Linked DNA regions of Homo sapiens: all the other regions are linked to region 3. The links come from fine-mapping of genetic effects on gene expression. A gene starts in region 3. Each other region holds a variant in brackets. All regions are shown on one strand. Distances are between the middles of the regions. Region 1 has its middle 8.1 kb from the start of DES. Region 2 overlaps DES (desmin). Region 3 holds the start of DNPEP (aspartyl aminopeptidase).

Evidence for each region. PIP is the estimated chance that this variant, and not a neighbour inherited with it, causes the effect.
Region 1: its variant is the best candidate, but not a certain one, in a credible set for the expression of DNPEP in whole blood (Lepik 2017, PIP 0.78).
Region 2: its variant is the best candidate, but not a certain one, in a credible set for the expression of DNPEP in whole blood (TOPMed, PIP 0.74).

What each region holds. Positions count from the first base shown.
Region 1 is chr2:219,404,725-219,415,833 of GRCh38, forward strand. No RefSeq gene overlaps it. Among named protein-coding and RNA genes, the nearest start is that of DES, 8.1 kb to the right of the region's middle. RefSeq lists an enhancer at 3,682-4,182. The variant G/A (reference allele first, on the strand shown) is at 5,613.
Region 2 is chr2:219,419,129-219,425,082 of GRCh38, forward strand. DES (desmin) reads left to right here. Exons shown (of 9, transcript NM_001927.4): 2 at 967-1,027; 3 at 1,123-1,218; 4 at 1,367-1,528; 5 at 1,700-1,825; 6 at 2,212-2,432; 7 at 4,649-4,692. Among named protein-coding and RNA genes, the nearest start is that of DES, 3.7 kb to the left of the region's middle. The variant ACACACATG/A (reference allele first, on the strand shown) is at 3,184.
Region 3 is chr2:219,382,499-219,393,607 of GRCh38, forward strand. It overlaps DNPEP (aspartyl aminopeptidase), which reads right to left and starts at 5,414. Exons shown (of 15, transcript NM_012100.4): 1 at 5,261-5,414; 2 at 4,572-4,665; 3 at 4,394-4,482; 4 at 4,167-4,280; 5 at 3,788-3,913; 6 at 3,470-3,600; 7 at 3,133-3,208; 8 at 2,926-3,033; 9 at 1,868-1,945; 10 at 633-716. The coding sequence starts at 5,296. It overlaps DNPEP-AS1 (DNPEP antisense RNA 1), which reads left to right and starts at 6,072. Exons shown (of 4, transcript NR_183823.1): 1 at 6,072-6,298; 2 at 6,389-6,550. RefSeq lists an enhancer at 4,095-4,941 and silencers at 5,206-5,445, 5,466-5,985, 6,066-6,215.

The DNA.
Region 1 (11,109 bases), 22 kb after region 3:
CTTGGGAGAGGTGTCCAAGAAGGGAACTGCCCAGGACCAGCAGCTGGAAGACCAGGAGAAGCAGCCTGGGACCTAGGGGTGGGGGCAGGGATCCTAGTCCAGGCCGGAAGCCCTCTCAACACCAAAAAGCTAGAATGTGGGGTCACCAAATAAGGGCCTCCTCACTTAGACGGGGCTGGGGCTGGGGTGGAGCCCCAGAGGAGAAAAGGAGAGCTTGGGAGAAGTTGGAGCCTAGATTCAGCCCAATTCTGAGCTGGTGTCTGGAGCTCCAAGCCCTTTTCTGGCTGGGGAGTGGGGGGCACTCTTGCTTGTAGGGTGTTGGTGGGAGAGCTCACTGCACAGCACAGAGGAGCTGCTGGAAACAGCCTGGGGCCCTCCAGCGCCCTCTCAGTCCCAGCACCAGCCTGTCCGCTCCTCTCTGCCCGATCCCTCTCCCAGCCTGAGTGGCAGCACCGGCTGTGGCCCCTCCCAGCCCCAAGGGCAGGCGGTCAGTGGTCTATTCTGGTATCCAGGGTGGCTGGGGCACCTGGGAGAGGGCAGAGGGAGCACCTGCCCCATCTCTTTGAGGCCGGATGAGGTGGGGGCATTAGGAGGGCCCTTTGGGATGGTTGGGGTATACCGTTCTGACTGCTGTGGGTGGGAAGAAAGAAGGCCAGCACTCTGCTTTCAGCAAATTGTAACTCTGGGGATCTTTAGTTGGGAAGGGAAATGTATCTGGGACACTCCTGATGCGCTCTGGGAGCATCTGGCACTCACGAGCTTGGGCAGTGGGAATCCCCAGGGGCTGGCAGTGGACCCCGGAATCTTTTTGGAAACTTGAGGCCACAGATCAAGCCTGGACTTTGGTCTCAGTCCTCCTGGCAGCCTCTCCAGGACAGAGGTGTGGATGCTGCTACGCGAGGCTGCTCCCAGGCCGGTTGGGGGCAGTCTGGGGCCAGGGTGGACTGAGGGGAGCCTCTGCAGCCTGTGAGGAGCCCCGTGCCTGGCTGGCCTGTGAGTGGCATGGGGCAGAAGGGCCCCCACTGGATTCTTTATCCTTCAGATGAAAAATTTCCAGTGTCCTCCCCACCCGCCTTTCCTGTAGGCTAAAGTTCGGACTCCTCTGTCAGTGGGGCCTGACTCCCTGACAGCCTCCCCCTCCATGCCTAGACCGTTTCTGGAGGGCAAGGGTTTTGGGAAGAGGAGCAGAGCAGAATGTTAGGAGGGACTTGTCCAATGCTGGACAAGGGGCTTTTTCCATGGAGAGTCCCCGATGGGGCCGAGTTAAAAGGGGATGAGCCGAGGGCTGTGTCTGCCAAATCAATATGTGGTAAGGCCTTGGAGACCACACAGAGAAATAAGCAGGACTTCTAGGAGACACTGACTAGGGTTAATCCAGGCTTTGCTTTTTACTTGCTGTGCAACCTTAGGAAACTTACCTAACCTCTCTGAGGCTAGTATCCACCGCTGTAAAATGGGGATAAGAGTTACTTCAGTGTTGTAAGGATTAGAGATACAGTGATTCCATGTGGTAGCTATCCATAATACTGTGCCTGGTATACAGTAGATGCTCAGTGAGTGGTGGCTGTGTTATTCTCAGAGGCACCATAGCCCATAGGAAGAGCTAGTGCTTTGGAGTCAGGCAGTCCTGGCTCTCAATCTTGGCCTTGACCTGCTGACCTGAAGCAAGGACTTGAGCAAGTCCTTGGCTCCCACTGAACCAGTTTCCTTATTGGTCAAAAGGGGATACAAAAAATACTCATGATGGCTGGCACTTACTGAGCACTCGAAGTGTGCTGGGCACTGTGCTAAGTGCTTTGCAGACAAGTTTCTCGTTTAATCTTCCCAACAACCCTATGCTGTAATTACCATTTCACAGGTGAGGAAACAGGCTCAGAGAGGTGAGGAAACTAACCCAAGAGTGGGAGATCCAGGATCTGAACTCTGGCCATGGCCTATCAGATGCTTCTCAAATTCCTCCCCTTGCCCACACCTCTGCAGAGTCCAGTGGAATTGAGGTCATGGGCTGCCTATCTGGCAGACGTGAGAAGACAGAAGGATGATGGGCTGGGCTATAAGAACATACAATGCTGAGGGCCCAAAAAAGGGTGTTGTGTAGAACCCAACACTCATCTTCATTGTGTACTTGGATGGTTCAGAGAATAAAGCATCCAGCACAGCGGCAAGAACAGTTCAGGGTGCCGTGGTGGACTGGGATCTGGAGTGGCAGAGAAGGCCCTGGGGTCTGAGTGGACCCCAAGCTGACCGTGACTCAGCTGGTTGGAGGAAGAGGAGGATGAGCCTATAAGGCTATAAATAGAAGCTGTGCATAGTGGCCCTGTGAGGTCATTGCCAGCCTGCTCAGGCCCTGTTTAAAGCCTCACAGCCTCAGAGGGATGTAGGAAACCTGGAAGGGGCCCAGGAGGGCAGGGATCTGACCAAACTGGAGAGGCTGAACCAAAAAAGCCTATGAGGCAAGATGAAAGGAATGGGGATGAATCAGGAAGAAGAGAGAATGGAGTGATGGCACTGAGATCCCAACAGAGAATTCCAAGGAAGGGGTGCAACCCCTTTTCTTCATCTAGGTTGAAATATAAAAAAGAAAGAAGGGGCCCAGGTGCAGTGGCTCACGCCTGTAATCCCAGCACTTTGGGAGGCCGAGGCAGGTAGATCACTTGAGGTCAGGAGTTCCAGACCAGCCTGGCCAACATGGTGAAACCCTGTCTCCACTAAAATATAAAAATTAGCCGGGTGTGGTGAGGGGGCACCTGTAATCCCAGCTACTTGGGAGGCTGAGGCAAGAGAATCGCTTGAACCTGGGAGGTGGAGGTTGCAGTGAGCGGAGATTGCAACATTGAACTCCAGCCTGGGCAACAAGAGTGAAACTTTGTCTCAGGAAAAAAAGGGAAAAAAAAAAAAAGAAAACAGACCTCTTTCACCCCTCTCTTTGGGGTCAGAGTAGGGAGGTATGTCCAAGGATATTTCACTTTAAGCAAGGATAAACCCAGACCCAGAACGGGGAGGTGACCAGTCCAATGTCACACAGCTTGTCTCAGAGCTGGTCCAGGACAGGTCCCCAGTTCAGCCATGTGCTCCCAATGCATCCGGAAGCCTTCCCTGAGGTGTTTTCTTTTTTTTCTTTTAGAGACAGGATCTTTCTCTGTCACTCAGGCTGGAGAGCAGTGGCTCAGTCATAGCTCGCTGCAGCCTTGACCTTCTGGGCTCAGGCAATCCTCCTGCCTCAGCCTCCCTTGTGCAGTGGACTCCAGGTATGCAGCACCATACCTGGTTAATTGTTTTAAAAAAATTTGTAGAGACAAGGTCTCACTTTGTTGCCCAAGCTGATCTTGAACTCTTGGGCTCAAGCAATGTTTCTGCCTCAACCTCCCAAAGTGCTGGGATTACAGGCATGAGCCACTGTGCTGTCCTGGGACCTTTCTTAATGCTACCAAAGCCCCCTTCCCTTCCGTCCACCCTTCCGTCCCATCCTCTCCTCCCTGTCATCTCTTACTGGGTGAATAACACCTGAAGTTTACAGGGTACTGAGAGTCCACAAAGCCCTTTCATCTCCATCATCTCATGAGCTCTTCCCCCTTGAGGCCCAGCCTCCTTCTCCTCCTAGCCTCCTTCCTGGGCTGAGCTGTCCTATTTGGTGGGAGAAGTTGGGGGCTGGGGAGGAGGTGAGATTAGCCCCAGACTTGTCCTACTTTGGCAGAAAGTCCACAGCACTCTGTGTCTGTAAAAGGAGCGTGGGGCAGGAGGGGCAGGAGTCGGGGCTGTGGGGCCCTCCTTGGAGAAGGAGCAAGGTCGGGGTGTGGGGGTGACGAGGACGATGAAGGAGGGGTTGATGAGAATTGGGGTGGGGGTGCCAGTGAAGGAAGGGGCCCAGGAGAGGGTCTGGGGGCTGGAGGTGGAAAAAGTTAGGAGAGGGAAGATATGGCCCGAATGTCTTAAGCCAAAGAGATGTGGAGCGTGGCCGATGGGAGGGGGGTGGATTGCTGGCTGAGCCTGGGGAGGAGGCAGCGCAGCAGGAGAGGGATGAGTTTCAGGGAGAATCCTGACGCCATCCCGGCTGGGCCCCCAACTCTCCAGCCTCCCCCCGGGTGATATCAGGGAGAAACAGCCGCCTCTGGACATTCCTTCCCTTTTACAGTCACTCCAGCTCCTCAGCAGCCTGTGGAGGTCAAGCAGCTGCTCCAGCTGGGGGAAGGTGGATGGAGGGGATGGGGATGCATGGGAGGGGGCTGCTGGAGGGAGGGGCTCTGGACAGGGAGGCCAGGGGACATTAGACAGTGAGTCCCAGGAAAAAACTCAGCTGAGACCACCCCCTGCTGGGGCCCAGAGTCTCAGGCTGTCAGAAGTTGAGGGGACTCCAGAGGTGACTTGGCCTTGTCCCCTCACACTGGGATCACAACAGGGCCGAGGCCAGGGACTTGCCCAGGTAGCCCAGGTGGTCAGCTGGTGAATCCCCAGGGTGTCCACCTGTATCTTCGCCTCCAATTGACCACTCTACCCCCAACCCCTAAGCTTGTGCCTTTTGCCACCACCTTCTCACCCCCCTGTCAATGACCCAGTGCTACAGTTGATGATGAGGGCCTAGGTCCCCAGAGTTCATCCTTGCCATGCTGTTCCCAAGGCTCTCTCATGCAATGGCTGCCTCCTGGCCCAACCCAGCTCAGGGTGGAAGCATGAGGTCCCCAGCTGGAAAAAAAGAGAGAGAAGAGGGGCCCTGGAAGGAGTGGAAGGTGCCCCTGTGGGTGGGTATTAGTCCACGGAGGGAGGGTGCACCGCAGGAGGAATTAACACTGCCTCATACCTGGAATCCCAGGGCAAGTGAGGCTCTCTCAGACCGGGTAAAGGGCCAGTTCTCTCCTTTTTGAGTTCTTTCAGTTTTTCCTAATCCAAATGCCCTATGCTGGCCAAGCCACCTCAGCTATCCGCCCATACTAGCCACCTGTCCTCCATCCATGCCATTCATGAAATCTGGGGGCTCCTAGGTAGAGCCAGGGCCCTTATTTTCCAGAGAGCCCTCTGTGAGGTTCAGAGATCTGCCGGGGCATCCTGAAGCCCTCCAGACATTGCGCTCGGGGGACAGCAGGGAACAGCAAAGGCCAAGGTCTGGAGGCTGGAGAGAGCTGGGCAGCCTCACCCAACAGAAAGGAGGCTGAAGCAAGGGGAGTCTGAAGGAGAGGTGAGTGACCTGCAGTTGACGAGGTGGGCAGGGCCAGTCCTGTGGGGCCCTCAGAGGCCATGACAAGTTTGGGTCTTGCTGGTTCAATAGGTCAGGGAAAGGAGAGAAGCTGGGAGTGGCAAAACAGGCAACGTTCCAAAAGGCATGAACACTGCCCCCAAATGTTTGCAGGGTAGATCTGTGAAAGGGGGGTTCTTGCTCTGCTTGGCTCCCAGGTTAGAATATGTGGCATAGCAGAGACATGTCATCTGGCTTTGAGTATCAGGAAACGTTTTCTTTCTTTTCTTTTCTTTTCTTTTTTTTTTTTAATTTTGACACAGAGTTTTGCTGTTTAGCCCAGGATGGAGTGAAGTGGTGTGATCTCGGCTCTCTGCAACCTCCACCCGCCAGGTTCAAGTGATTCTCCTGCCTCAGCTTCTCAAGTAGCTGGGATTACAGGCCC[G/A]TGCCACTACACCTGGCTAATTTTTGTATTTTTAGTAGAGACGGGGTTTTGCCATGTTGGCCAGGCTGGTCTCAAACTCCTGACTTCAGGTGATCCGCCCTCCTCGGCCTCCCAAAGTGTCAGGTTTACAGGTGTGAGCCACCGCACCCGGCCAAGGAAAGGTTTTCTAACAGCAGAGCTGCGGTGCAGACATGTTAGGTACTCAGGGACTCTTCGGGAATGGAATGTGCTGCCCAGAGACAGTAAGTTCCCAGGGACTGGAGGGATTCAAGCTGATCAAGTGCTTGCTGGAGCCACAGTAAAGAAGACTTCGGACTTCAGTGAGAAGTGGGAGCATGAGACTGGTCAGCCTCATGACCTGCTGAGGTCCAACTGTAAGCTTCTAAAACTCTGAGGTTTGAATAATCTGGAAATATTTCTTTTTTGTTTTTTGGTTTTTTTTTTTGAGACGGAGTCTCGCTCTGTCACCCAGACTGGAGTGCAGTGGCGCAATCTCGGCTCACTGCAAGCTCAGCCTCGCGGGTTCATGCCATTCTCCTGTCTCAGCCTCGCGAGTAGCTGGGACTACAGGTGCCCACCACCATGTCTGGCTAATTTTTTTATTTTTAGTAGACACGGGGATTCACTGTGTTAGCCAGGATGGTCTTGAGCTCCTGACCTCGTGATCCGCCTGCCTCGGCCTCCCAAAGTGCTGGGATTACAGGCGTGAGCCACCACGCCCGGCTTAATCTGGAAATATTTCAAACGGAGAGCAGGACTAACTTATTTCCTTAATTCATTTAACAAAAGTTATTGTCAGTACCCACTGTGCAAGGCACCATCCCACATACACAAATTTATAAATTGTCCCCTTTTCTGGTAAATGCTGAATGAAATCATCTGTCCTGGTGGACCTTTCCATTTCCAATATCAATTAAGGAAGAGGCCTGACTACTAAATACTGTGACTTTTATGTTTTTTTTTTAAAAAAGTGGCCGGGCATGGTGGCTCACGCCTACAATCCCAGCACTTTGGGAGGCTGAGGCAGGTGGATCACCTGAGGTCGGGAGTTCAAGACCAGCCTGACCAACATGGAGAAACCCCATCTCTACTAAAAATACAAAATTAGCCGGGCGTGATGGCGCATGCCTGTATTCCCAGCTACTCAGGAGGCTGAGGCAGGAGAATCGCTTGAACCTGGGAGGCAGAGGTTGTGGTAAGCCGAGATCGCACATTACACTCCAGACTGGGCAACAAGAGCAAAACCCGTCTCAAAAAAAAAAAGTACCAAAATTTGTGTTCAAAGGTGTCCTGAAGATGTTCACAGCAGCATTGCTTATAATAGCAAAACACTGGAACAACATAAATGTCTATCAATAAGGAACTGGCCAAATAAATTATACCAAGTCTATACAGTGAAATACAAAGACACTAAGAAAAATGACTCAAAACCCCACAACAAAGAAAAGTGCAGGACCAGATGGCTTAACTGGTGAGTTCTAAGAAACAAAGAACTAACACCAGGCTGGGCATGGTGGCTCACACCTGTAATCCCAACAGTTTGAAAAGCCAAGGTGGGAGGATCACTTGAGCCCAAGAGTTTGAGATCAGCCTGGGGCAACATAGGGAGACTCCCTGTCTACAAAAAAATTACAAAGTTTGCCAGGTATGGTGGCACACGCCTCTGGTCCCAGCTACTAGGGAGGCTGAGGTGGGAGGGTGAGAGGGTTACTTGAGCCCCGGAGGTTGAGACTACAGTAAGCCATGATCACACCACTGCACTTCAGCCTGGGTGACAGAGTGAGACACTGTCTCAAAACAAACAAACAAACAAACAAAAAACCTAACACCAGTCCTCAAACTCTTCCAAAAATTAGAAGAGAAAGGAATACTTTCTAGCTCATTCTTTTTTTTTTTTTTTTGAGACAGAGTCTCGCCCTGTCGCCCAGGCTGGAATGCAGTGGTACGATCTCAGCTCACTGCAACCTCCGCCTCCCGGGTTCAAGTGATTCTCCTGCCCCAGTCTCCCAAGTAGCTGGGATTACAGGCGTGTGCCACTACACCCAGCTAATTTTTGTATTTTTAGTAGAGATGGGGTTTCACTATGTTGGTCAGGCTGGTCTCGAACTCTTGACCTCCTGATCTGCCTCCCTCGGCCTCCCAAAGTGCTGGGTTTACAGGCATGAGCTACTGTGCCCAGCCACTTTCTAGCTCATTCTATGAGGCCAACATTATCCTCATACCAAAGCCAAACAAAGACACTACAGGAAAACTACAGACCAATATCCCTTATAAATATTGATGTAAAACTCATAACAAAATACTAGCAAACCAAATTCAGCAGCAAATTTAAAGGATTACACACTATAATCAGGTGGGATTTATTCCTGGAATGCAAGGATAGTTCAATATATAAAAGTCAATCAGTGTCATACTTCACATTGACAGAATGAAGAAAAACCCCACATGATCATCTCAATGATAAATGAAAACAACTGCATTTATAATAGCATTAAAAATAATAAAATACTTAGCAATAAACATAAATAATGAGGCACAAGACTTGTACACTGAAAATTATAAAATATTATTGAAATAAATCAAAGAAGACAAAAATAAATGGAAAGACATCTCATGTTCATGAACTGGAACACTTAATATTGTTAAGAATACCATTACTACTCAAAGTGATCTATAGATTCAGTATAATGCCTATCAAAATCTCACCAACATTTTTGCAGAAATAGAAAAATCCATCCTAAAATTCATAAGGAATTTCAAGAGACCTCAAATAGCCACAAATTTTTGAAAAAGAACAAAGATGGAGAACTCACATTTTCTGAGCTCAAAATTTACTACAAAGGTACAGTTATCAAAACAGTGTGTGGTACCAGCATAAAGACAGACATACAGACCAACAGAATATAATAGAGAGCCCAGAAATAAACCCTCACACGTGGTTAAATTATTTTCATCCCAGGTGCCCAGACCATTCAGTGGGGGAAAGGGTAGTCTTTTCAACAAATGGTGCTGAGAAACTGGATATCCACATGCAAAAAAACAAAGCTGGACTCTTACCTTATACCATACATAGAAATTAACTCAAAATGGATAAAACAGCCAGGCCCACATTGGCTCATGCCTGTAATTTTGGCACTTTGGGAGACCGAGGTGGAAGGATCGCTTGATCCCAGGAGTTTGAGGTTGCAGTGAGCTATGATGGCACCACTGTAATCCAGCCTGGGTAACAGAGCAAGACCCTGTTTCAACAACAACAACAACAACAAACAGACATGATACCTAAACATAAGAGCTAAAATATAAAATTCTTAGAAGAAAACAAAGAGGAAAATCTTCATGACATTGGATTTGGCGATGATTTATTGAATATGACACCAAAAGCATAGGCAATAAAATAAAAAATAGATAAATAGGACTTGATCACAATTACAAACTTTTGTTCATCAAAGGACATTATCAACAGAGTGAAAAGGCAAACCACAGAATGGGAGAAAATATTTGCAAATCATATATCTGATAAGGGATTAATATCCAGAGTATATAAAGAACTCCTGCAACTCAACAACAAAAAATCCCCAAACAACCCAATTCAAAAATGGGCAAAGGATTTGAAGACATTTTGCCAAAGAAGATATACAGATTACCAGTAAGCGCATGAAAAGATGCTCAACATCACTGATCATTAGGGAAACGCAAATCAAAACCACAATGAGCAGCCAGGTGTGGTGGCTTGCTTCCATAATCCCAGCACTTTAGGAGACTGAGGCAGGAAGATCGCTTGAGACCAGGAGTTTAAGTCCTCAGTGAGGTATGATCATGCCATTGCACTCCAGCCTGGGCAACAGAGTGAGACCCTATCTTTAAAAAATGAAATAAGGCTGGGTGTGGAGGCTTACAACTATAATCCCAGCACTGTGAGAGGCTGAGGTGGAAACATCACTTGACCCCAGGAATTTGAGACCAGCCTGGGCAACATAGGTTTGGAGACCTCATCTCTATGGAAAAGTAAAAAAACTAGCCAGGTATGGTGGCTTGCACCTGTAGTCCTAGGTACTTGGGAGGCTGAGGCAGGAGGATCACTTCAGTCCAGGAATTTGAGGCTGCAGTGAGTGATGATCGTGCCATTGCACTCCAGCCTGCGTGACAGAGGCCCTGTCTCTAAAAAACAAAACAAAACAAACAAACCACAATGAGGTACCACCTCACATCCATTAGGAAGGCTACTATTAATATTATAAAACAAATAAACAAATAGAAAATAGCAAGTGTTAGCCAGGATGTGGAGAAATTGGAACCCATGTTCACTGCTGGTAGCAATGTAAAACAGTGCAGCTGCTGCGGAAAACAGCATGGCAGTTCCTCAAAAATTTAGACATAGCATTACCATATAACATAGCAGTTCCACTTCTGAGTATCTACAGAAAAGAACTGAACATAAGTATTTGAACAGATATTTGTACACCAAAGTTCATAGCGACATTATTCACAATAACCAAAAGTTGGAAACAACCCAAATATTCATCAACAGATAAACAAAGTGTGGTGTATACATACAATGGAATATTATTTAGCCTTAAAAAGAAAGGAAATTCTGACCCATGTCACAACATGGATGAACCTTGAAGACGTTATGCTAAGGGAAGTAAGCCAGTCACAAAAGGACAAATATGGTATGATTCCACTTGCATGAAGTACCTAGAGTCAAATTCGTAGAAACGGAAAGTAGAATGATGTTTACCAGGGGCTGGGAGGAGGGGAAGGTGGAGGGTTATTTTTAATACATATGGAGTTTCAGCTTGGGACAATGAAAAAGTTCTGCAGATGGATGGTGGGGATAGTTGTACAACAATGTGAATGTACTTGACGCCACTGAACTGTATACTTAAAAAATGGCTCAAATGGTGAATTTTATTTTATGTATATTTTATCACAATGTAAAAGTGACTCAGCTGTCAATGTACTAAAATGGAACCATCTCTAAGCTGTATGTCATTGAAAAAAGATTGATTCAGAAGTGGGGGCTCCACATAAGAAAATGTGGTTGTGTGTACATGAAGTATCTCTGAAAGGAACCGATAACAACCAAAACCTGGTTGTCTCTGAAGCAGTGTTTGGGGTGGCTGGGTGTCAAAGTGGGAAGGAGACTTACTTTTCATTTTATGCCTTTTTGCACATCTTGAATTTTGTACCATATACACTACCCATCCAAATAAATTGTCGGTATTTTTAGTGTGTCCCATCCTGAGTGGTCCTCTCGGGAGGCTGAACTCTCCCTCCAGCGGTGCTGCCCAGCTCACAGCATGTTTTGGAGTGCTCCTCTTTCACCTGCCTTCCAAGCCTCGGGGTGTTGATTTGCAGCCCTCCATGGTAGCAAATCCTCAGGGGTGGAACTGAATTTTGAAAACAGTCCCAAGTGGTTCGGGGCCAAGTCTGGTGGTTGTTGATTTTGACTAGAGAATAGATGGCATGATTTATTTGTCTTCTGCCTCTTTTCACC
Region 2 (5,954 bases), 34 kb after region 3:
CCTTCTCCCGGGGCCCGGGACCCTCTCCTGCCCCATGTGGAGAAAGGGTCCTCCACCTGTGTGTTTCAAGGGGCCGTGACCTCCAGGTCTCTCCCCCTGCGATCCCATCTTGCACAGGAGTTTTCTTGGGGACATAGATCAGGGGGTGGATATGGGAGAATTTAGGGGACCCGGTGCCCTGTGGACAGCCCCGTTAAAAAGCATTTTAAGATGCTGGGGCGATATTTATGGGGTCAGGTAGTTGATGGGCAGAGGAAGGGCTGCAGGAGGCCCAGAGGGCAGTGTAGCCAGAGGGAGAAGGGAGGCTGATAGGAGACAGGGAAAGCAGGGCAAGGGCCCAGAGTCCAAGCAACAGCTCTCAGCTCAGCTGTGATGAGGCCCTGGGGGAGGTGGGGGGAGGGGGGAGCTTGGCCCTGGGGCCTTGCCGAGACTGTGTCTTTTTACAAGGTGAATGGACAGGCTGGAGAAAAAGGGAGTAGGTGGGGGTCACAGCTCTCAGAGAGCTTGGGAGGACCTGACTGTAGACTTCACCAGGCTCCAAGAACGAAAAGGGCAGCAAGTGTAGCATATTTGTTGGTCCCACTTCTGACAGGCCAAGTGAGCACAGTCACCCTCCTGCCACCAAAGTCATAAATATTAATTGAGCAGCTATATTGGCCAGGCTGGAGCTGGGAACCAGAAACACAGAGGTGGATAAAATAGACACAGTTTCTAACCCCAGGGAGGTCACACAGTCTGGTGGGGACATAGACTTCAAGGGTGTGGCTCCTGGGCAGAGATTGGGCCACTTCCTGTGCCCTCCCTGGGTGGGTGGGGCCTCTCCACTCCCTGTCTCTCCTGCCTCTACCCAGCAGCCAGGCCCTCCCGCTCTGTCCTGGACCCACCCCCTGGTCAGCCCCCGGCCAGTCGTTTCCACTGCCAGCTTTATCACCCGCAACTGTCTGTCTTTCTGTCTGTCCCACCCAGGCTGCAGGAGGAGATTCAGTTGAAGGAAGAAGCAGAGAACAATTTGGCTGCCTTCCGAGCGGTGAGTGCCCTTCTTTTCCCCTTGCATGGCCTCTGGCCTTGCTCTGCCCCACCTGGGTGGCGGTGACCATGTCCTTCTCGCTTGGCCTCTCCCAGGACGTGGATGCAGCTACTCTAGCTCGCATTGACCTGGAGCGCAGAATTGAATCTCTCAACGAGGAGATCGCGTTCCTTAAGAAAGTGCATGAAGAGGTATACCTTGGCCCCTCTTCCTGGGGTCACTGGGCCATGGGGAAAGCAGCCGGAAAGTGGGGTTGGGGTGAGGCTCTGGCTGGGAATAGGGGTGTGAGGGTGCTGTGTGGGCCCTGAGAGGGGACTGAAGCCCAGTCATGCCCTACAGGAGATCCGTGAGTTGCAGGCTCAGCTTCAGGAACAGCAGGTCCAGGTGGAGATGGACATGTCTAAGCCAGACCTCACTGCCGCCCTCAGGGACATCCGGGCTCAGTATGAGACCATCGCGGCTAAGAACATTTCTGAAGCTGAGGAGTGGTACAAGTCGAAGGTGGGTGGCCTCGCCCGGGGACTGGCATCTCCGTCCCCCTGAATCCCAGCTTGGATGTGCTGCCTGTGGTACCATCCATGGGAGGAGAGCCCAGAGGCTTCATGCTCCCTTGCTCATCCCTACCCGTGCCCTGCATCCTTCTCATTTTTGGGCCCCTTTCTCTGCCCTTAGGTGTCAGACCTGACCCAGGCAGCCAACAAGAACAACGACGCCCTGCGCCAGGCCAAGCAGGAGATGATGGAATACCGACACCAGATCCAGTCCTACACCTGCGAGATTGACGCCCTGAAGGGCACTGTGAGTCCCTGCCCACCTGGCCAGGCCCTGCCCCTTCCTGTCTGCAGTTCACACCCTCACTTTGTGACCTTGGGCCCATCATAGATCCTCTCTGGGCCTTCATCTACTTAAATCTACAATAGGGGTAAAACCAGACAAGTGGATTCCAGTTGGATGCTAAGGAATCAGGGGTTCCTGGGCATCTACCTATGTGGGGACTGTGAGGCTGAATGCAATGTTCCTTTGTATCTATTTTATTCTGAGTGTTCACATATAGACTTAATTTGAGTTCAGGGTTCAACATGGCCTGGACCTGACCATCTGGAGTTGCCTGCCAGCCCCAAAGCTTTCTTTGGGCTGCTAGTGTCCTCTTCCCTTCCTTGACCTGGGTTCCCCCTCTCCTGCAGAACGATTCCCTGATGAGGCAGATGCGGGAATTGGAGGACCGATTTGCCAGTGAGGCCAGTGGCTACCAGGACAACATTGCGCGCCTGGAGGAGGAAATCCGGCACCTCAAGGATGAGATGGCCCGCCATCTGCGCGAGTACCAGGACCTGCTCAACGTGAAGATGGCCCTGGATGTGGAGATTGCCACCTACCGGAAGCTGCTGGAGGGAGAGGAGAGCCGGTGAGGGGCCAGGCAGGAGCCCGAGTGGGAGGTGCGGGGTGCTGGGTGGTCCATTTCTGTCCCCAGGAGGCTCGAGATTACTGATTACCTCAACAAGACCTGGAAACAATTTTTTTTTTTTTTGAGATGGAGTTTCGCTCTTGTCGCCCAGTCTGGAGTGCAATGGCACCATCTTGGCTCACTGCAACCTCCGCCTCCTGGGTTCAAGCAATTCTCCTGCCTCAGCTTCCCGAGCAGCTGGGATTACAGGCGCCTACCACCACGCCTGGCTAATTTTTGTATTTTTAGTAGAGACGGGGTTTCACTATGTTGGGCAGCTGGTCTCGAACTCCTGACCTCAGGTGATCTGCCTACCTCAGCCTCCCAAAGTACTGGGATTACAGGCGTGAGCCACCGCACCCGGCGTGGAAACAATTTTATACAAGAGGCCACTGCTCTATTAATTGCAGAGAATTAACCAAGGCCACCTGGGTAAAAAGCAATTTAATTAACAGCATTTATAAAAAGAGAAATATAAGTATTCCCTTATCCACCTTCAGAATTAAGAACCAGCAGCAAAAAAAACCATATTCAGCAACCAATAATAAAATATTACTGCCAGTCAAGGGAGAGATGAAAGCAGAATGGGGAGTGATGAGGAGGGAAACGGAGGGAGCAGATAGAGGCAAATAGAGAGAGGGAGGGAGAGAAGCCTTGCACAGGGATAGGCTAAGAGAAGGTAAAGAGATGCATACAGAAGGCATGAGTTTGC[ACACACATG/A]CACACATGTCAGCATATGCACATGTTCGGAGGAAAAGACACAGACGTCATGCTCAGAGCAACCCACCTCTAGACACAGAAAACAACATACAACTGGAAAGGGACACCAGGGAACCTTGTGGGATAACAGAAATGTTCTATATCTTTTTTTTTTTTTTTTTTTGAGACAGAGTCTTGCTCTGTCACCCAGGCTGGAGTGCAGTGGTGTGATCTCAGCTCACTGCAACCTCTGCCTCCCAGGCTCAAGCGGTTCTCCTGTCTCAGCCTCCCTAGTAGCTGGGATTACAGGCGTGTGCCAACACACTCAGCTGATTTTTTGTATTTTTAGTAGAGATGAGGTTTCACCATGTTGGTCAGGCTGGACTCTAACTCCTGACCTCAAGTAATTCGCCTGCCTCAGCCTCCCAAAGTGCTGGGATTATAGGCATGAGCCACTGTGCCTGGCCTAGAAATGTTCTATATCTTGATTTGGACTGGTAGTTACACAGACGTGGACATTGATCAAAACTCATTGAATTGTACATTAAAGATCTGTGCATTTCACTGTATGTAAATTTAACCTCAATTTAAAACAGATCAGTTACTCCAAAAACTGGTACCCCTTGATACTCATAAAAATAATATCTGAAATTTTTAAAAAGGAGCAGACATGTTTAGATACAGGTACAAACATAAAGAGAAACTTCAGATTTTGTAAAATCACGTCTACATATGATGGCCTTTGAAGGTAGCTAAAGGCATGTTGCATTTTCCCAGCATTAGGCCTAAATAGTAAGCTCTCAGAACTGGCCTGGCTGGAGGGTGGGCATGAGCAATGGATATCACCCACAGCTGCTACTAGTACCAACTTCAGTGCCAGGAGCAAGAAGGAAATCCTGGTGCTCTGGAGGGCGCGGTGGGGTTGCACATCCTAGTGTCGTGCCAGCAGTTCACAGTTGAAATAATGATCCTTCCAGAAGAGACTATTCCTGGGACAGCTCTAGCTGGCCTTCGACCCCATTCCTTGAGCAGTATGGGTGGTGGGAGTGCTGGGGTCCGTGGGACTGGGACAGCTGAGGATGGTGTTTAGAAAGGACCAGGGTGAGCCTTGATGGGCGGTCTCAGGGAAAGATGGGAGGGTTCTTTTTTTTTTTTTTTTGAGACAGGGTCTTGTTCTGTCCCCCAGGCTGGAGTGCAGTGGTGCAATCTCCGCTCACTGCAAGCTCCACCTCCTGGGTTCGCACCATTCTCCTGCCTCACCCTCCTGAGTATCTGGAACTACAGGTGCCCGCCACCATGCCCGGCTAATTTTTTGTATTTTTAGTAGAGACGGGGTTTCACTGTGTTAGCCAGGATGGTCTCGATCTCCTGACCTGGTGATCCGCCCGCCTCGGCCTTTCAAAGTGCTGGGATTACAGCTGGGCCCGGCCGATGGGAGGGTTCTTAACTCTTAGGAGGTTTTGTCTCTTCCCTTTTAGGATCAATCTCCCCATCCAGACCTACTCTGCCCTCAACTTCCGAGGTGAGTGTCTGCTGGCAGGCGGAGGCTGGAGTTGCAGGGGCCAGGAGTCCAGCATGGGCACTGCCCAAGGCCAGCCAGGAGGGAGGATGGGACCCTGGGGCTAGGGACAGACCTGGAGTCTGGGGAAGAAAAAGGGGACCACTGCGGGTAGGTGGGGGAGTTTAGGTAGAGGTGGATGAGGCAACTTATGACAGAGAGAGCTTTTTATGTGATTATATTGTATTGTATTTACCATGTCCCCTGCACCTTCTTGGAGTATTGGGCCTCAGGAAGCAGCCTCTGTTCTGAATCCCAAACTCTGAAAGCAGGAGTGTCCTTGGGGACCTGGCTTCAGGAGCATCTCATACCACCTGCCCTCTAAGACACCCACAGCCCATTGTCTGTTTGGCACATTGCCAAGCCCCACCTTGGCTGCTTGTCGAACACCTCCAGTTTGCTGGAGCAAGATGTTGGATGCACGTTTGGAAAAAAATGCCAAATCTTAGCAAAGCCAAACAATGAAAAGAACGAGCTCTTAGGGCACTCTGCCATTTTGACATTAGTAATACGCAGATCGGGTGGCTTTCCAACCCCAGAGAGCAGAGAAACACACGATAATGATGCATTAGGAAAGCAAGTCGGAGTCCTTGGCAGCTTCTCCTTTCCTAGATCAAACCTTTTCTATCTTCGATGTACATTTCCATCAGGAAAAAAAACACGCTGCGCTCCAGCGAGTCACAACATTCATCACAGGCTGGTTGCTAGCTAAGGAAATTCGTAAGCACCAAACTCATAATACCAAGGACCTCCATTTGACCTTTCCTACACAACTCAGAGCCTCTCTTTTCAGTTAGTTGTTTATACAGACACCAAGTATGAGTCTTGCATTTAAAACTTCATAGTACAAAAAACTCCACCCACATTGCACAGTGCTTTTCCAAATCAATAGCTTTGTGGCCATGATAAGGTTGGTACCACTTCACTCCGTGTCCTCAGTGAGGAAACTGAGGCACAGAATGGCAAGTGACTGAGCATCAGCACAATGAGTCAGTGCCTTATTCCTGCTCTGTCTCACTTTAAGACATCAAGTTGCTCATCTGAATTTTTTTTTTCTTTTGAAACGGAGTCTCGCTCTGTCGCCCAGGCTGGAGTGCAGTGGTGCAATCTCGGCTCACCGCAACCTCCGCCTCCCAGGTTCAAGCAATTCTCCTGCCTCAGCCTCCTGAGTAGCTGGGATTACAGGCATGTGCCACCACGCCCCCCTAATTTTTGTATTTTTAGTA
Region 3 (11,109 bases):
ACTTAACTACCCAGCTAGAGATGACATTTCCAGGCTCCCCTGCAGCTAAGTTCTGTGGAATGTAAGCAGTGATGAATGTCACTTCTGGATCATGCCCTTAAAGCCAGGGGGTGTCTACTGCCCCTTTGCCCTCTCTTCCCTTCCTACTAACTCAGTGTAGACATGATGGCCAGAGCTGGAACGGCCACCCTGAATCCTGAAATGGAAGTCATGTGTTCAGGACGGCAGGGACCCCTCCTAAACTGCTAACTCTGACCTGGGTTGTTACATGAGAGAGCACTAGCTGTTCAAGCTCTGTTATGCAGCTGAGACTGCAGCCTCACACACGCAGGCATCATGAGGACCTACTCTGTGCTGAGCCCTGGGGCTACGAGGATGGGCTGGGTAGAGTCCCTGTCCTAAAGGAAGAAGCTCACCATGTGGCACAAAGAGAGATACAGGAGAGACGGTCACCCTCGAATAAGCAGATCTATGTTGAGTCAGAGGAGACACCAAGTGCTAAGGAGGCACAGGCAGCATCTCCCCTGTCTTGGGGCCCCCAGAAGAGCCCTGGCTCACGGTGGATGCCTGGCACAACAAGTTGGCTGTGGAAGACTCCGCAGAGGTGACCCTCCCCAGAACCCTCCACGTACCTCTTCGTTGTCATAGAGTGTGACCATGCGCACGTGAGGCTCTGTGGCCAGGGAGCCAGGGCCTGCACAGGAATCTATCAAGGCCTGGTTCAGGGAAGGAAATGAGAGCATCATCTCCAACCTGCTTCTGCTGGAACTCAGCCCACCAGCACCTTGGGTGTGCACGCTCCCCCATCCACCAGCACCTTGGGTGTGCACATTCCCCTGTCTGCCTTCCATGGCCATGACTTTTATCAATTAGGGCACTGCCTGGCAGAGGGTGTGGTGGGGACCTTTTTTTTCTTGCCAAATAAATAGCTACATAGGTAGAAACCTTTAAGGTGTGGTGAGGACCTTTTTTTTCTCTTTTTTTCTTTCTTTCTTTTTTTTTTTGGCCAGATCAATAGCTAGGTAGAAACCTTTTCAACTGGGACAGGAGACACCATCCTTTGGGTGTTGTTCTCTACCTTCCCATGCAAAAGGCAGTAGAAGATGTGGAGGACAGAGAGGAAGAGCTGAGAGTCCTGGAAAGCCAAAAGGCTACACACATCACATAAACTGATTGGCCTCAGGGAAAAGACTGAGGTTCAAAGAGGTGACAGACTCCATCAAGGTGACATGACTGGCTGGTTGCCTGCAGAAGTAGATGCAGGTCCCAGGTCCAGCTCTGGTCTCAATTACAGCCCAAAGCCTATCTCCAGCCACAGGATTACAGGGAAGGAAAGGCAGAAAAAGGCAGAGGGAGATCAAGGGCAAGAGGAGAGAAAGAAAGGGAACTGACTAGGGTGGAGAGAAGGTGGGGAATATCAAGGTGACTAGGAAGAGAGGCTACCTGACTGAGATCCCAAGAAACAGGGAGAAGGCTGGGGTCTTAAGCCTGGGGAGTGGCGTAGGAAGCAGAAGGAGGTGGATGATACTGCCTTGTGGATGATAAAGCCTTTCCCTGAGGCAGAGGTTGTTAACTTCAGGAAAAGCAGCAGGAGCAAGGCTAGGACAAGAGACCATGGTGCCTGAAACAACTTCTCCTCCTTCTTCTTGCCTCAACACCCTGATAGTGCAAGGGCAGAGACCAAAGGTGGCGATGCTGAGGCTGCAACATTTAGGGCCCCCTCCTGGTCCATCCAGCACCAGCAGACTGAGCGGGTAGACAATGGCCCTCTCTCACAACCTGCTGGGGCTTTAGGCAGCTCCCCCGACCCCAAACATACCACCTCTGCTGGTGGTTATGTGCTGCCTGGGGCGCCCCGGCTCCTCACCTGCAGGGCACAGAAGCAGCTGTGCAGATTGTCCAGCCGAGGAGCAAAGATGAACTCATCATAGGCACCACCCAAGACCTAGAGAGGTAAGACAGTCAGCCCGACCTTCAACCCTCCACCCCCACTCACCTTTCTTTTGCTCCCAAGGGTCTCCTTGGTTTCTTGCGCAACCTCTCCCTGACCCCTGGCTTAGGGCACTATTTTGTTTTTTCTTTTTTTTGAGATGAAGGTTCGCTCTTGTCGCCCAGTCTGAAGTGCAATGGCTCGATCTCGGCTCACTGCAACTTCCGCCTCCCGGGTTCAAAGGATTCTCGTGCCTCAGCCTCCTGAGTAGCTGGGATTACAGGCATGCACCACCAGGCCCAGCTAATTTTTGTATTTTTATTAGAGACAGGGTTTCACCATGGTGGTCAGGCTAGTCTCGAACTCCTGACCTCATGTGATTCCCCCCGCCTCAGCCTCCCAAAGTGCTGGGATTCCTTGCTAGGCAGGACCAAGCAGAGATTGGAGAAGGGGGCTGGGTTGGTGCTGAGGAACAAAAGGGTGGAGGCCAATAGCTCTTGACCTCTTCCTGTGGGTCAAGAAAAGGAAGGGCTGAATTGTCATCAAAAAGGCCAAAGAAGTAAACAGAGGAAACCAGCCAAAAAACAGAAACTTAGTACGTGTTCAAGCAGGACACAGCATCCAAAGATTTAGCAATCTCTGACCATCAGCAACCGGGAGACAGAGAACAGATGGCCACATCCAGGCCTCTTTCCCTAAGCAGTTCAGTGTCAGTGTGGGTCAAAGCAGACAGGGCCCACCTGTAGAAGAAACTCTTTGGGAATCTGTAAAAAGGGCCAATTCCCAGATAGTCCTAGTGGGCAGGTCTGGGGTAGGGAACTTGTCTTTTTGAGAACCACCGCCCTAGAAGCAGTGGGGGATGTGTCTACTGGGAAAAACGGGGATGAGAGTTACTGAGGGCTTGGTGGAGGTGATGGGTGCTTCAGCAGGACGGGCTAGGGGTGGCCAGGATCCTGGAGGCCCTTCACCCACAGGTTCCTACAGCCAGTCCTCACCGCAGGCTGGGTGTCTGCAAGGCAGAGCTCCATCTCCACTATGTCCTTGGGGCTCAGCCCCAGATGGGCACAGAGCAGGGACATGAGGACCGAATGGTGCCGCTCATCCTGAAGAGCAGAAAGATGCTGGGAAGAGTCCATTCCTCCTCTCCTCCCCACTTCTCAGGGGACTCTGCCGCCCTCCCCATGATCAGGAGACTCTCTTACCACAGCATTGAGAGGCCCTGGCTCAGGAGTCCCCTTCTCCAGCTCCTCCTGGATGGCTGTGGCAAGAATGGGGACTCTGTGGGGAGACGTGGGTTGTGGGGGGATTGCGAGGAGGGCACAGCTGAGTGCGGCATCCATAAGTTCAGGTGCCTCCTGATGGGCAACTGCCTCTGCCCTTCAATTCCCAGCCCACTCCCCAAATCACAAGGCTGTGAGGACCCTTAGAAATTAACTGGGTCCCAAGAGTAAAATGTGACCTAATGGCTACCATTAGGTAATAATCACCTGGTACCATTCTCCATCCCTCCCAGCCACCGCAGCCCTGCCCCAGTCTCACAGATGCATCTCTGTGTTGGGCCCAAAGTTCTCGTTGATATTTCGCTGCAGATGGATGGCCAGGTGTGGGATGCGAAGAATGGGCCGCTCCACGTGCACCAGCTGCTGCTCCAGCCGACCTGAGGTAGGGCACTGCAGCCAGCCAGGCCAGGTCAGCCCAGGGTGCCTCCTACCCCAGTGGTCAGTCTTTACTTCACTCAGACTAAGCAGGGTGGTCCTCTGACCAGACTGCCCCCACCCCTCTTCCCCACGGGTACCCTGAGGAGTGTGGCAGTCAGTCTTCTGAGGAGGCTCCGCCATCCCCAACCTCGGTTCCCACCTTGACAATGACGCGTCCAGCCAGAGTCAGGTCACGGTCAAACCAGGTGCTCCAGATCCCACCACCATAGGTCTCCACACCGACTTGCTGGAAGCCCACCTGGCTGCGGCGAGACCGACGTTTCACCTGAGTGTAAAGATGGAGAAGTCAGAGAAGGCTTCATGACGATATGTGGAGATGAGACTTTGGCTACTCATAAGTAACAGACAGCGAATATTAGTGTCACATGAAAGGCTCAAGGTGTGAAGGAAGGGGCCAACAAGTTTACCTTCTCCCTTACTCCAGGGGATAGAGGCCCCAGTTTGTACCTCCTAGTTCTCTTTTGCCCTGTACTCCCTCTGACATCTCCTCCCACCCCAACACCGTCCGAGTTCCTTACCCGGAGGCAGGGGCTGTCCGTGTGGGCCCCGATGAGGCTGAAGCCATTGCCAGGAACGTACTGGCCCCCTACAGCAAAAGCTATGATGGTGGAGGAGTTCCTGGTCATGAAGTACTGAGGAGAAGGGGAGGAAAGACAGGGGTGTGAGTTGCATTACTCAGCTGGCACACAGGGCTTGGAGACCAGCCTAGGGACCTGCCTTTCCACCCCCACCCCACCCCCAGTACCTTGCTCTCGGGCTTAATATTCCATTTCTCAGTCTCCTTGAGTTCACTGAAGCCAGCCTGGAGAAGGCGGTTGCGGCATTCAGCCACAGCTGTGGGAAAAGCACCCTCTCACAGCGATGGAAGCTGGTGAAGGGCGCATCAGCCTCCACCCTCCTCCCTTGCCCTGGCCACCGCTTACCATGGAAAGGAGAGGGACTCCGGTTCACGAACTTGAGGAGTTCCTTAGCCGCAGTCTGCACCGCCTCTTTGCGGGCCTTACCGTTCATGGCCACCTAGGGGAGGGGGATGCTCAGACTTTTACAAGGTCTGGGACCCCTGACCTTTCACCCAGGTTCCGAGGATTCTCCCATCCCCACCCCCAGAAGTGACCACTCTAAGGCACAGACCTCTGCTTCCGCCCGTCCCCACCGAGAGACCCAAACCCAGGGCTGAAACTCCGTTGAAAGCTTCAGCCCGCCGGCCCAGGATCATGAGCCAGGCCCGCCCCTTAATCCGAACTTTAGCCCGACTCCCTAAGTCCCGCCCCCATGTCCCTGCCCAGCTAGGAAATCCTGTTCTGCTCCCAAACTCCGGGATCCCAAGCGGGCCCCATACTCTGAGGCGGCCTGCATCACGTGCGCGTACCCAGCCCGGAGCCAAAGCCCTGTACCCCAAGGAGCACCCTGACTCCTCTCTCGCACCCACCTAGTCTCTCGCAGGACTCCCCCTTCCAGTCCCGGGAAAGTCGTCAGGTCACCCTCCGCGGGGCTTTCGGTTTCGCTTTGGGTCAGGCGGCCCCACTGCAGCACCGCGCTAAGCTTGGGCCCCGGAGGGCGCCGGACCCGGTCTGGGATCGAAATTCAAGTGGGGCCGTCGGGAGCCACTTACCTGCATGGCCCCGCGCGTGGGGCTGTGTCCGCTCATCTGGCCTCCGGGCTCGGCCCGCCCCCACCGCGCCGCCTGCCCCGCCCCTCACTAGCTTTGCAGGTCCCCCGCGTGCCCCTTCAGGCCGCGCCGCACTCGTAGGCCTTCATCACGCTTCCCCGGCCGCGCCGCCCCGCCCCATGTTTGGCCTCCCCGCCCACCTCTCCCCGCCCCTCGGCATCCGCCCCGCCCACCTCGGTCAGCCCCGCCCCTCGGCGGGCTTACCCTGTCCGCTCCGCCCCTCGCTGGGCACCACCACCCGCCTTGCCCCGCCCTTGCCCCGCCCCTAGCTTGGCCGCACCGCCCGCCCCGCCCCGCCCCTCGCCAGGAAGCACCGCCCGCCCTGCCCCTCGCAGGGCTGCACCGCCCGCCCCGCCCCTCGTCAAGCTTCCTCGTCCGCCCCGCCTCTCGCCAGGCTGCACCGCCCTCCCCGCTTTGTCCCGCCCCTCACCAGGTTTCCCCCATCCGCTCCGGCCCTCGCTGTACCCCACTACTCGCCCTGCCCCCGCCCTTGCTCCGCCCCGCCCTTCGTCAGGCCTCCTTGCGCTCCCCGCCCCTTGTCAGGCCGTGCCGCCCACCCCGCCCCGCTCCTCGCCAGGCTGCTCCACCCGCCCCGCCGCTCGTCACGCTTCCTCGTCCGCCCCGCCCCTCGCTAGGCTGCACCGCCCGCCCCGCTTCCGCCCCATCCCTCTCCAGGCCGCGCCTCCGCCTCCGGCCCGCCCTCGTCTCCGCCCCTGCGGGGGCTGCTCGTTAGGCCCCGCCCTGCACCCCCGTCACCCACGCCGCGCGACCCGCAGCCGCCGCCAGGGCCCTCTGCTGCCGCGGAGGTGCTAGGACAGCCGCGGACGGCCCGCCTCCCCGTGCCCCGGGCCTCGAGGCCAATAAAAAGCTCGCCCCTCCAGCTCACCGGGTCCGACGGGTACGGTACAAAGTGCTGTCTCTCGCCACAGCCACCTTTGTGACAATAAAAGCAATAAGGCTAATGTCCATGGGGCGCTCACGGTGAGCTTTAGCTTTATGATAAAGATTGGCCTGTTACCTCGTTTAATCTTCACAACTGCCCCATCAACTATGTACTCTTACTGTCCCCAGTTTATGCATGAACAGAGAAAGCTGAGATACGGAGACTAGTGATCCGTCGAGGTAATAAACGGCACAGGTGGGGTTTGAACTCCATCAGTTTGATTGCAGAGGCCTGGAACAACCCTACAGCCTTCTCTCAGATCTTTTCTGGACCTTTTTCTATGCGCTTTGGTAAGTGTTATGTTACACGGGAGGTCCACAAGGGACACAGAAGTTGACTTGCCCAAGATCACATAGCTGTTTGGGTGGATCTGGGATTTGACTCTGATATCTGTGCCCTTTCCATTTGTTAAAAACAACAGAAAAACAAATTCCACATTATTGGCAGTTCCAGTATTCCCATGTCAGGAGTAGTGAGTAGCACGTTTAAACCCCATGCACCTTCCTAGCTGCAGGAACTGATCAGGACTCTTGGTGGCCTCTAGATCCAAAACAGGGCCCAGCTACCAGGGGTTCAAACAAAATTCCAGAGATCACAGGTTTATGGAGCAACCTGCCGTTTATATACCTGGGGTGGGGAGTGACAGGGTGGGATGGGGAGAGGCTGGAAAGGTCCTGCAGCCCTCACTTCAAACTAGTAGATATGGCAGGGGAGTTTTCAAGAATTCACCCACTAGGTGCTGGCTTAAATTCATGGCATTCCCTAACCGTTTGTTGAAATACCATTATGGGCCTGGCGCAGTGGCTCACGCCTGTAATCCCAGCACTTTGGGAGGCCGAGGCGGGTAGATCACTTGAGGTCAGGAGTTCGTGACCAGTCTGACCAACATGGTGAAACCCCGTCTCTACAAAAAATACAAAAATTAGCCGGGTGTAGTGGCACGTGCCTGTAATCCCAGCAGCTACTTGGGAGGCTGAGGCAAGAGAATCGCTTGAACCCGGGAGGTGGAGGTTGCAGTGAGCTGAGATCGTGCCACTGCACTCCAGCCTGGGCGACAGAGTGAGATTCTGTCTCAATAAATAAATAAATAAAATTATGTATAAAGCTCAATGCTGAGCAGGACATGGAGAGAGCATTCTTGTCCTCTACCTCCTGGGGAGGGGACACATTCAAGGAGGACAGTGAAAGGGCCGAAACAAGGCTACAATGTATAAGGGAAGGAGACAACCTGAATAAGGAACCACCTTTAATGTTCTTTCTGATCACAGAAAAGAGTACATGCTTGAGTAAGAGATTCAAACATCACCAAAATGCATAACTTAGAAAGTGAGCCGGGAGTGGTGGCTCACGCCTGTCATCCCAGCATTTTGGGAGGGAAATACAGAAGTGTTCCTATTCAAATCAGAAGTGAGACATTGATGAGCTATTACTGCTGCTAGACAATGTGGAGCTGTAGTCAGAGCCAGTACCACAAAACAAAATTAACAATTCTATATGTGCAAAAGTAAAATTGGTCATTATTTATAGATTATATGATTATCTAGAATCCCCAAGAAAATAAACGATCAAGCTATTATTAGAACTGGTAGGAAGGGTAGCCTAATTTAAAAAACACTGACTTTCTTGTACAATAATCACCTAGAAAATATAAAAGTAAAAAGGTTCTTATTGACCATTTTTGGTTTGGGTAAAAAAGAAAAAAGTAAAAGGGCTATATTTACAAGAGCAAGAAATATTGTTAAATTTCTAGTCATGAACATATGAGACACCTAATCTCACTTTAAACAGGAAAATGCAAGTTAAAAATGAGATAACAGTTGGGCGTGGTGGCTCATGCCTGTAATCCCAGCACTTTGGGAGGCAAAGGCGGGTGGATCACGAGGTCAGGAGTTTGAGACTAGCCTGGCTAAAAATACAAAAAATTAGCTGGACATGGTGGTGTGCACTTGTAATCCCAGCTACTCAGGAGACTGAGGCAGGAGAACTGCTTGAACCCGGGAGGCAGAGGTTGCAGTGAGCCGAGATCGTGCCATTGCACTCCAGCCCAGGCAACAAGTGCGAGACTCCAACTCAAAAAAAAAATTAATAAATAATAAAAATGAGATACTTTTTCTTTTTATTGAGCAGATTAACAAAAATGGAAAAGATGGGTAATATCAAGTGTTGGAGAAGGCTTGGGGTAATGCAAGCATTTTCTGGAGGCTAAAGCAACTCCATCTGGGAAGCTAATCTGCCATGTTGACTTTTCAACAACCTGTTCCAGGAATGACTCTAAGTTTTCTACTTTACCTACTATTACCATAAATCCTGCGCTTAGACAGATTCACATAGCATTCATGACTTTGCCTGAGGGGTCAACTTCAATTGTTTGACACATTGTTTCCCTATGGTATGTAAGCCCTGGGTTTGCAGGGTAATCCACCATTTCATCTCTGAAACTATGGCCTCTATTCATAAGTCCCTATGAAATGTTTCTTTCTGAGAGACTGTATATGTCAGCCTCTTTCGTCGGCTTTTCAGCTTCCCTGAACTTTGGGGGTATGTTTGCACAGACCTTTATACCCAAATTTCTGTGGTGTAAATGTTCCCCGTGGCCGATTTCAAGCTGTCGAGATGATGTCACTGAAGGGAGTTGGGAAGAGCTGTGCGGAAGCATGCCATTATGTAGATTTCCACCATGCAGACACAATGGATAGAAATAACATCAACAGCATAGATTTAAGAAGGCAGTAAAATGTTTGGAAAGGTGATGGATTTTTGGTTTTCATTATCTGTAATATAATTTATTTAATTGTAAGTGTATATAATTTAGTTTTTTTTAATGATTGCTGTGTTTAACAACAAGCTCACCAAATTCCTGGAAATTTGACAATCAGTTCTCATGAGCTTGTCCAAGTTGGCCCCAGCACACTATTCCACCCGTACTGTACATCTTTGCTACTAAATGTGTGATCTGTTGACCAGCAATGTCAATAACATCTGGGAGCTTTTTAGAAATGCAGAACCTCAGGGCTTACCCTAGAGTTATAGAATCAGCATCTGCATGTTAACAAGATTCCTAGATGATTTGAATGCTTGAGACACAGTATTTTAAAGTGCTGTGTAGCAGTTCATAAAAAAAAAAAAAAGGTCAGTCTTTAGGAATTGTTACAGAAAAGAATTCCAAATATACTGTTGAGTGAAAAAAAAAAGCAATTTCTAGAATGTAAGGTGAGGGCCTTTAGATAAAACTCACACAATGAGCTAAATTTATATTTCTAGATGTTATATAAATACATATGTAAATGGATAGAAACAGGTTTGGAAGGATAATGGTCACCTCTGGGTAAGGGAATGGTGATGGATTTGGAGTTCAGGTGGCAAAGTCAAGGGATGACTAGGGATCAAGAAAGAAAAAGTTTCTGAGAATCGTTCTTGCCCTTGGCCTTCTGAGAAAATCTTCCCTGGAAGATCTCGGCTGATGTTTACAATGCTACCATTATTCATTCATCTTTTTGGTTTAACACATATTAAAGTGCAAATACTTTTGCGTGAACATAGAAGTCAGTTACATACACTTCAGTGTGAGTTTATAAGATACATATGTCTTTTTTTTTTTTTTTTATTGAGACGGAGTCTCGCTCTGTTGCCCAAGCTAGAGGGCAGTGGCAACCATCTCAGCTCACTGCAATCTCCGCCTCCTGGGTTCAAGTGATTCTCCTGCCTCAGCCTCCCATGTAGCTGGGATTATAGGTGCCCTCTACCACACCCAGTTAAATTTTTTTTTTTGAGATGGAGTCTCACTCTGTTGTCCAGGCTGGAGTGCAGTGGCGCTATTTTGGCTTACTGCAACCTTCATTTCCTGGGTTCCAGAGATTCTCCTGCCTCAGCCTCCTGAGTAGCTGGGATTACAAGCACGCATCACCATGCCTGGCTCATTTTTTGTATTTTTAGTAGAGACAGGGTTTCACCATGTTGGCCAGGCTGGTCTTGAACTCCTGACCTCAGGTGATCCACCCACCTTGGCCTCCCAAAGTGCTGGGATTACACGTGTGAACCACCGCGTCCAGCCTAGAACTACAAACTATTGATCCTACCTTTCCCTATTCCTCACTCCTGTCTTCATGACTCTCCTACCTAGGATGAGCCATACATTCCACTGTTGTGCTCACTCCCTCGCACACACCTTCAAGTTCCTGCTCTAGATTTGCGGACTTGCCTGGCAAAACCCCAACCCTGACTGCAACCAGCTCCTCCCCTGCTCCAACCTGTGTGGCTGGAGAAACATCCAAGCCGCGCTGCCTGGTCTCACTTTAAACCAGTGGTGTCCGGTCTTTTGGCTTCCCTGGGCCACATTGGAAGAAGTAGAATAGTCTTGGGCCACAAATAAAATACACGAACCCTAACAATAACTGATGAGCTAAAAACCTTTCAAAAAAATCTCATAATGTTTTAAGAAAGTTTACAAATATGTGTTGGGCTGCATTCAAAGCTGTCCTGGGCTGCATGTGGTCCATAGGTGGTGGGTTGGACAAGCTTACTTTTTTTTTTAGTTTTTTTGAGACAGAGTCTTGCTCTGTTGCCCAGGCTGGAGTGCAGTGGCATGATCTCAGTTCACCACAACCTCTGCCTCCTGGGTTCAAGCGATTCTTCTGCCTCAGCCTCTCAAGTAGCTGTGATTACAAGCATGAGCCACCATGCCTGGCTAATTTCTGTATTTTTAGTAGAGACAGGGTTTCACCATGTTGGCCAGGCTGGTCTCGACCTCCTGACCTCAAGTGATCCATCTGCCTTGGCCTCCCAAAGTGCTGGGATTACAGGTGTGAGCCACCACACCCAGCTGGACAAGCTTGCTTTAAACTCAACCACT